Linked DNA regions of Homo sapiens: region 2 is reported to be linked to region 1. Evidence: microRNA targets listed by miRTarBase, many of them from high-throughput screens and not tested one by one. Region 1 holds a microRNA gene; the other region holds the end of a gene's coding sequence. Distances are between the middles of the regions.

The links. Region 1 holds the annotated microRNA hsa-miR-6797-5p (AGGAGGGAAGGGGCUGAGAACAGGA, at 1,826-1,850, opposite strand). A microRNA usually pairs through its seed, bases 2 to 8, with sites in the 3' UTR of a target mRNA and lowers its output. Matches are read on the target gene's strand: a 7mer-m8 pairs with bases 2 to 8, a 7mer-A1 pairs with bases 2 to 7 and ends in A, and an 8mer does both.
Region 2: miRTarBase lists GET3 as a target of hsa-miR-6797-5p. Seed matches in the 3' UTR shown: 7mer-A1 at 3,415-3,421.

Annotation. Positions count from the first base shown.
Region 1 is chr19:41,867,331-41,871,481 of GRCh38, reverse strand. MIR6797 (microRNA 6797) reads right to left here and starts at 1,855; the gene lies at 1,784-1,855. It overlaps RPS19 (ribosomal protein S19), which reads right to left. Exons shown (of 6, transcript NM_001022.4): 4 at 2,268-2,451; 5 at 1,729-1,783; 6 at 1-131. The coding sequence ends at 105. RefSeq lists enhancers at 1-6, 1,449-2,007.
Region 2 is chr19:12,747,564-12,751,563 of GRCh38, reverse strand. It overlaps GET3 (guided entry of tail-anchored proteins factor 3, ATPase), which reads right to left. Exons shown (of 7, transcript NM_004317.4): 6 at 3,972-4,000; 7 at 3,241-3,591. The coding sequence ends at 3,460. Among named protein-coding and RNA genes, the nearest start is that of BEST2, 2.2 kb to the left of the region's middle.

The sequences.
Region 1 (4,151 bases):
TGGCGCCACTGCACTCCAGCCTGGGCGACAGAGCAAGAGACTCAAAAAAGAGACCCAGACCAGGATTACGAATGAGGCAATTTATTAACCCAGCATGGTTTGTTCTAATGCTTCTTGTTGGCAGCTGCCACCTGTGGGAAAAGATGGAAGAATAAAAGTTAGTCAAGGGGGTCTCTGCTGGGGCACTTTGTAACAGCTACCTAACTACCCACCACAGGTGGGCACCCCGATTTGTGGTTTCAAATGCATCTATCTCATCTAATTCTCACTGTGGGTATTCCCCCATTTCACAGACGTGGAAACTGAGTCTCAAGGGAGTGGCCAGGCACAGTGGCTCACACCTTTAATCCCAGCACTCTGGAAGGCCGAGGCAGGTGGATCACCTGAGGTCAAGAGTTCGAGACCAGCCTGACCAATATGGTGAAACCCTGTCTCTACTAAAAATATAAAAACTAGCCAGGTGTGGTGGTGTGTGCCTGTAGTCCCAGCTACTCGGGAAGCTGAGATAGGAGAATTGCTTGAACCCAGGTGGCAGAGGTTGCAGTGAGCTGACATTGCACCACTGCACTCCAGCCTGGGCGACAGAGCAAGACTCTGTCTCAAAAAAAAAAAAAAAAAAAAAAAAAAAAAAAGGAAGGGAGTGGCGGAGTGGAGTCCAAATTCCGCCCACTGCCATGTGAGAAGGCCAACATCCAACCACCAGCAATGATGTGTGCGCCAAGCCCCACTCTGCCTGGAAGAGCTTTCTCCTTCCAGACCACCCCCAACTCCTAGAGGGCTGACACTTTCCATTCTTTTGTGACACTTGACTGACTAAATGCTCCAAGGCTCCTAGGAGGCCTGAGTCAGTGATACAGAATTGAGCTCATGCCAGGCCCTGGGTGCTCCTGCTGTACTATAGCTCACTGACTCCTCACTACCATGCTTGAGGTGGCCAAGGGTAGATTTTGGCCACAGGGAGGCCAAGACAGGAGACTGTGGCACCAGGGGTGTGGCCACTCTGCCCCAGGGTGTTGGCCAGCCAGGATCTGAATGGAGACCTGGGTTCTGAACCAGCCCCCCTCCCTTATCTCCACCTCTCCCAAGCAGCCCATGTGATGCTCAGTACGCATGAGGACTAAGGGGAAACATCGCAGGCTGACCTGGGGAGGGGGAGTCATCTACGGGTACAGCTATGTGCTCTGTGGATAGATGCCCAGTGGCACCTGGGCTGGAGTTCCCTCCAATTTTTTTTTTTTTGAGATGGAGTTTCACTCTTGTTGCCCAGGCTGGGGTGCAATGGCATGATCTTGGCTCACCGCAGCCTCCACCTCCCGGGTTCAAGTGATTTTTGTGCCTCAGCCTCCCCAGTAGCTGAGATTACAGGAATGTGCCACCACACCCGGCTAATTTTGTATTTTTAGTAGAGACAGGGTTTCTCCATGTTGGTCAGAATGGTCTTGAACTCCTGACCTCAGATAATTCGCCTGCCTCGGCATCCCAAAGTGCTGGGATTACAGGGGTGAGACACCACAGCCAGCCTGCCTCCAAATTTCTAAGCAGCACCAACAGGAAAAGTCAGACAGGACTGTCCTTTCTCCTGTCTCTGGGCAGCCCTCCTCTGACCCCACCAGCACCCTGGGCTGTGCCCTCCAGAGAAGGAAATAAGTCTACCTGACAAAGTATGGGCTTTGGAAATGCTTGGGCAGCGACTAAGGGACCCAGCCCCACCCCAAACGCAGGCCTTACCTGTCCGGCGATTCTGTCCAGATCTCTTTGTCCCTGAGGTGTCAGTTTGCGGCCGCTGTGGGGAGGGAAGGGTCATGCAGGCCCCAGTGAGCACAGGTCCTGTTCTCAGCCCCTTCCCTCCTGGCTGTGAGCCAGGCTTCTCAAAAAGCCACCTGCCGCCAGCCAAGTCCCACTGAGGGCCCTAGTCAGGTGCATTCTAACGAGCTGGGGGCAGTAGTGGGAGCCCCCCTGGGAGCTGACGGGGTGTTGTTTGTGCAAGCATTTAGATCAAAAGCCCCGAAAAATCAATTGGGAAAAGTTAACGAGCAGGCTAATGAAAGCAGATAGTCGCTAAATTACCCTCCTGGAGCCTGGGCTAGTCAGCCAGAGAGGTCGGGGTGAGGCCCCGTGCTGTTTGCTTTTCTGCAGAATCCCCTCCTGCCTGCCTCTGATAGGAGGGGCCTGAGGGGCTGGGCAGACTATGCAGGACCATTCGTTGGGGAATTGATGACCGGGCCTCAAGGCTACTCCATCAATGCAGCCCCCTCTACCCTGCTTACCCATCTTGGTCCTTTTCCACCATTTTCAGCCCCTCCAGGGCTTGGAGGACCCGGCGGGCCACACTCTTGGAGCCTCGGCTGAAGTGGCTGGGCATGACGCCGTTTCTCTGACGTCCCCCATAGATCTTGGTCATGGAGCCAACCCCAGCGCCACCCCGGAGGTACAGGTGCCGCGCTGTGGAAGCTGGGGGTAGTGTGAGAGGGAGATTTAAGGGTCTTGATCAAGGTCTCAGGTAAACAATTCCTTGTGTGTAAACAGCTAATTCTCACTGTTTTATAAGAAGGGAAACTGAAAACACACACTAACACCCAGAAACTGACAGCCCCCTCTCCTCACCCACCCCCCCGGCTAGCTCTTCCTTGACAAACAGCCCTGCACCCTGGGTGGGCACTCCCACCATCTCCAGGGCCAACTTCTTTAGTGGTTACTATCCCAGCAGCACTGCTGTTGAATTGAACCTGAGGTTATGTAGGGGTGGAGCCTAGCTGTGACCATCTCCATGGGCCCCAGAGAAGCAGGAGTGAAGGGACCTATTGCCACTCTCCGGGCCACCTCAGTCTGGAGAGCTCAGGATAACAAGGGCAGGGCAGACACTCTGTGCAGTGGGTGCCCCCTGCTTGGAATGTGTACCAGCCCCTCTGCAGACACAGGGAAGGCTGGCTTGGGCAAGTCCCTGGTCCACCCCAGCCAGCCTCCTTGCCTGCAAAAAAAGCTCCGTAAAATCCAGTCGACACACCAGCCTCCCCAGAAACGCTTGCACGCTTCTATTAACTGGAGCACACATCTGCCAGGCCCTGTGCCAAATGCTTTTCGATCTCTCCACCCTTCTTCACCTGAGGGCCGGGTTACTCTGAGGACTCAACAGGTGTGTCAAGTGCTACTCTCCTTTAAAGAGTGAAACTGAGGTGCCAGAGGGTACTCACTGGCTCCGTGTCACACAGCTCTGGAGGAACTGCCCTGTCCTGCCACTGTGATGGCACCGGGGCCCACATGCAGGAAGCACCCAGATTTCAGCCATCACATGGTCCTGCCTAGCTCTGGAGCTCAGAGCAGAGTCTGGTTTGTTCCTGGGACCCAGAGATCAGCAAGTTGGTCTGAGTCTGCTCTAGTGATTTCTTTCCTCTAGTTCTAAAGATCAAGTGGGGGAATTGGGGGTTCTTCCATAACTGCCAAGTGCCAGGCAGTAGTCTGTGTGGGGTGGGCTGCTTCTGCCCAGAAACAGTTCTTACACACCGCTTGTTCCCAGCCCACTCCTGCCCTGAGATCAGGTCCAGATACAGCCAGCCCTTCATATCCACAGACTCAACCAAGGGTGGATCAAAAATATTTAGGGGAAAAAAACTACAATTCAAAACAGTGTAACAATTATTTACACCGTATTAGTGCTTTTTCTTTTTTCTTAAAACACAAAAAAAGGGCCTCATTCTGTCACCCAGGCTGGGGTGCTGTGGTGTGATCATAGCTCACTGCAGCCTCGAACTCCTGGGCTTAAGCAATCCTCTTGCCTCAGCCTCCTAAGTAGCTGGGACTATAAGTATGTGCCATGTCTGGCCTGTATTAATCTATAAGTAATCTACAGATGATTTAAAATATATGGGATCAGGCCGGGCGCAGTGGCTCACGCCTGTAATCCCACCACTTTGGGAGGCTGAGGCGGGAGAATCACCTGAGGTCAGGAGTTTGAGACCAGCCTGGCCAACATGGTGAAACCCCATCTCTACTGAAATTACAAGAAAATTAGCCAGGTGTGGTGGCACACCCGCTGTAACCCCAGCTACCTGGGAGGCTGAGGCAGGGCAGGAGAATCACTTGAACCTGGGAGGCAGAGGTTGCAGTTAGCCAAGATCATGCCACTGCACTCCAGACTGGGTGACAGAGTGAGA
Region 2 (4,000 bases), 29 Mb from region 1:
GAGGCAGGGATGGTCTTTTTCCCAGTCCCAGAAACACACACACTGCTCAGTGAGGCTGGGTCACTTCACAGTCACCTGTAATCACACAGTGTCACAGAGATGCACGCAGAAACACACATCATAGTCCCAGAAGCAAATCTAGCTGCTCTTAAGACAGCCTCAGCCAGGCACGATGGCTCACACTTGTAATTTTAGCACTTTGGGAGGCTTAGGTGGGAGGATCACTTGAGCCAGGAGTTCGAGACCAGCCTGGGCAACATAGGGAGATCCCCATCTCTATTGAAAAAACAAAAAGACAGCCTCACATAACTATGGTTACCCAGAGGAGCAGTACACACTGTCACAGAACCTTCCAGGGTCACACAAGACACACCTACCTCGACCCCTCCTGCCTCCATCACGCATATATAAGGCAGGTGGACCCTGACATACTAGGCTCTCCTCTTTCATACACACGGCTCTCCCAACGGTCTGAATTCCGTCATGATCACGCCATGTAACAAAGACACCCACACAACCAGCCAAGTGCCAGACCCCACCCAGACCTCAGAATGCCTTCACACACACAGTCATACTCCACTGCAAGGAGGTTTTACTCCCGATCTTCCCTGTGCAAAGATGCAGCCATGATCACACACCAAATGCAAAAACCCTTTCCTCAGTGCGGTGGCACACAATCCCAGGCTCAGAGCGGGGCCTGAGGTTCACCAATCTTGCAAAGACACACACAACAGCCACCCCTCCCTCAAGGGTCCCCTAGCTATCACCGCTGGTGAAATTCACCAGCATTTGTACACCAATATGTGAAGGCAACCCCCTTTCCAACGCTCCCTCCCGGCGGCAGGCCCACACCCACACCCACAGGTCTCAGATACTCTCAGCATTGCCATGAACACACAAGCTTGGGGACACAAAACCTTGTCCTGCATTTGGCATGGATTCTGGGCAGATGTTCATTCTTCACAGACACACCTCTAAAGGGGACACTCCCAGCCTGGTACAAACAGTACCCACTCCCCCTCCATTGCCCAGCCTGAAGAACATTAACACACAGATTGGTGTGGGAGGGGCAGAAGTTCAGGGGTCAAACCCTGGGATGGGCATCCTAGAGTGCTCAGGAGCCCCTCGTGCATTCTACATAGCCCCGCCCGAGGTTCCAAGCCCAGCAGGCTGGGACGCCGTGTTCCCAGACTGGCAGATGTTCACCCTGCCCGGAGTAATTAGGAACCCGCCTGGGCTGGTCACCCTGTGACCCATGCCTTCGCTGTCCAGCTGCCGGACAGCCCATAAATGGGGGCGAGGGGGCAGCTGGGGCGGTGCCGTCAGCTGCGGAACCTGGCAAGGCGGTGGCAGGCTCGGTGCTGATGAGCTCAGTTCTCGATCAGCAGCCCTCACTCCCTAGGAAGTGTCCTTGCATTCACTGAAGCCCGCTCCTCCTTTTCATCCTCCCTACCCCAGCTCACCCGCATCCCCACACACTTCCGACTGCTGAATTCCCGCAGGGGCTGGGGGCAGGCTTCCTGGGCTATTTGATATGCTTACTAATTGTGACAACGAAAAATAACAAACATTTCTTGCGGTTTCCTGTCTGGTGCTGGTATAAACGCCTTGCGTGTTTCATCTCATGGAATCCTTACGGGCATGCTAAGTTGGTCATCTTACTATCTAAGTAGGGAAACTGAGGCTCCGATGTCACATCTCATCTTGTTCGTAGCACAGCTGGGATTTGGATCCTGGCAGTTTGGCGCGGAGCCGGCTGTACCATCGTGTTTGTTTACACATGCCACCCCAACAGGCCCACACCTGCTTGTGCACACCCCAGGGAGTTGGAGTGACAAGTCTAGGCTCCTGGTGGGGTTCCCCTTACACACACACCCTGGCACACCCAGACTCTGGGTCTGAACACTTTTTTTTTGAGACGGAGTCTCACTTTATTGCCCAGGCTGGAGTGCAATGGCGCAATCTCGGCTCAGTGCAACCTCTGCCTCCCAGGTTCAAGTGATTCTCCTGCCTCAGCCTCGCAAGTAGCTGGGATTATAGGTGGGCACCACCACGCCTGACTAATTTTTGTCTTTTTAGTAGAGAGTAGTTGGAGGCTGGCCTCCAACTCCTGACCTCGTGATCCACCTGCCTCGGCCTCCCAAAGTGCTGGGATTACACGCGTGAGCCACCATGACTGGACCTGAACACCACTTTTGTTTTTTGAGACAGGGTCTTACCCTGTCTTGGCTCACTGCAACCTCTGCCTCCGGGGTTCAAGCGATTCTCCCACCTAAGCCTCTGGAGCAGCTGGGACTACAAGCACCCCAACACCATGCCCGACTAATTTTTGTATTTTAAGTAGAGACGAGGTTTCGCCATGTTGGCCAGGCTGGTCTTGAACTCCTGGCCTCAAGTGATCCACCCACCTCGGCCTCCCAAAGTGCTGGGATTACAGGTGTGAGCCACCGCGCCCGGCCTGAACACCGACTCACGTGTGTCCTCAGGAACCCCCTTTCTGTCCCCCCTAGCCAGCTCTGGCTTGGAACTTGTAAACTCTCAAGGTCATACCCCATCCTGAGTCTCCCAAGTGGGGACAACAATAGCAGCCCAGGCAGTGGCAGAGGGAGGAGCGAAGGGCAGGGGATAAGGGGGTCCACTAGGTGCCTTCCAGGCCTGTGTGCCCACAGCCTGAGACCGCTCTGGAGTCAGGATGAGACTTCAGGAGCCCCTCCAGCCGGAGTCCTCTGTCACCCTGCCCACTAACCAGCCCCCTTGCTGCAGCCCTTTGCTGGGAGGGGCTGATGCCATCCCATGGGGGCAGGAATTGGGGGGTGGAGACTGTTAATCCCCAGTCTGGCAGGCCTGGCCTCTCCCCAGGGCGCCCACTAATTCCCAAACCAAACAGCAGGCAGTGCCGGGCCCACTGCCGGCCTAATCTGCTCTGCTCCCCACCAGCCTGGGGCTGGCCAAGGGGCCTCCCAGTTCCCACGCTCTGAGCCTCCAAGGAAGTGGGAAAATGCCTCTGTCTTCCATTCCAGGCTTCACAGGCCCAACAGGGACACCTTAACCCACACAGAATGAGACAAAGGTATCTCTCACCCAAGACACCCTCCTTCCAAAGTTGCCACAATAAACATGCATCTCTATTAGGTCTCTGTTGTGAATGGGCCCCTCTAGATGTGACACTTCTGTCCAGTGCACAACCTGTGCAACTGTACATAAAGGTGCTTACCCTCACCTCCCAATGTCAACAATACAGCAGTTTAAGATCATTTTATTGAAGAGCAAGAGGTGGGAGAGGTAGGGGGCAACTACAGCTCCCCACCAGCCCCACCAGGGGGAATGGACCCCTCCCTGCCTCCTGCCCAAGTGGCTCCCCCTGTATTATGGGGGGGACTTTGTGCAAACTCTGCCCCGAGGGGGTGGGGAGGGTGGAGGGTGAGTGTGAAATGGCAGCGGTTGGGGCTGGCAGCTGTGCTACTGGGCACTGGGGGGCTTGTAGGGCTCCAGGAGGAGGGCCGAGAAGGTGTTGACCTTGTCTGCCCCCCGCACCTCATGGGGTAACAGCGGCAGCTTCACGATGTGGAAGTCTTCATACAGGTCCTCCATCTGCAGCCAGGGCAGAGGGTAGAAGGCAGTGGTCAGGGGGCAGGAAGGCAGAGACAGAGTGTGGATCAATAGAAGCGGTAAAGCTAGAAAGCTTCCAGAGTCAGGGAGAGAATATAGGGCAGGAGCTTAAGGTGTCATAAGTGGGAGCTGCATCACTATGGTCAGAGATCACTGGGCTAGACCCCCTGCTCTCCAGGGTCACAGGGACCTAGGCCAGGCCAGCCACAGTCCTCTATGGCCGGAATAAGGGTGAAGGATCTGAAATGTGGGGGCAAAGGGCAGGAGGCTAGAGGGCAGAGGGCCAGATGGTGGAGCAAAAGATCAGAGAATAAAGGGGCAGAGGTGCCTCTGCTGAGCCAGTGCTGGGTGGGTGGGCACACCTGGTCCAGATACTTGGCCTGGATCTTGT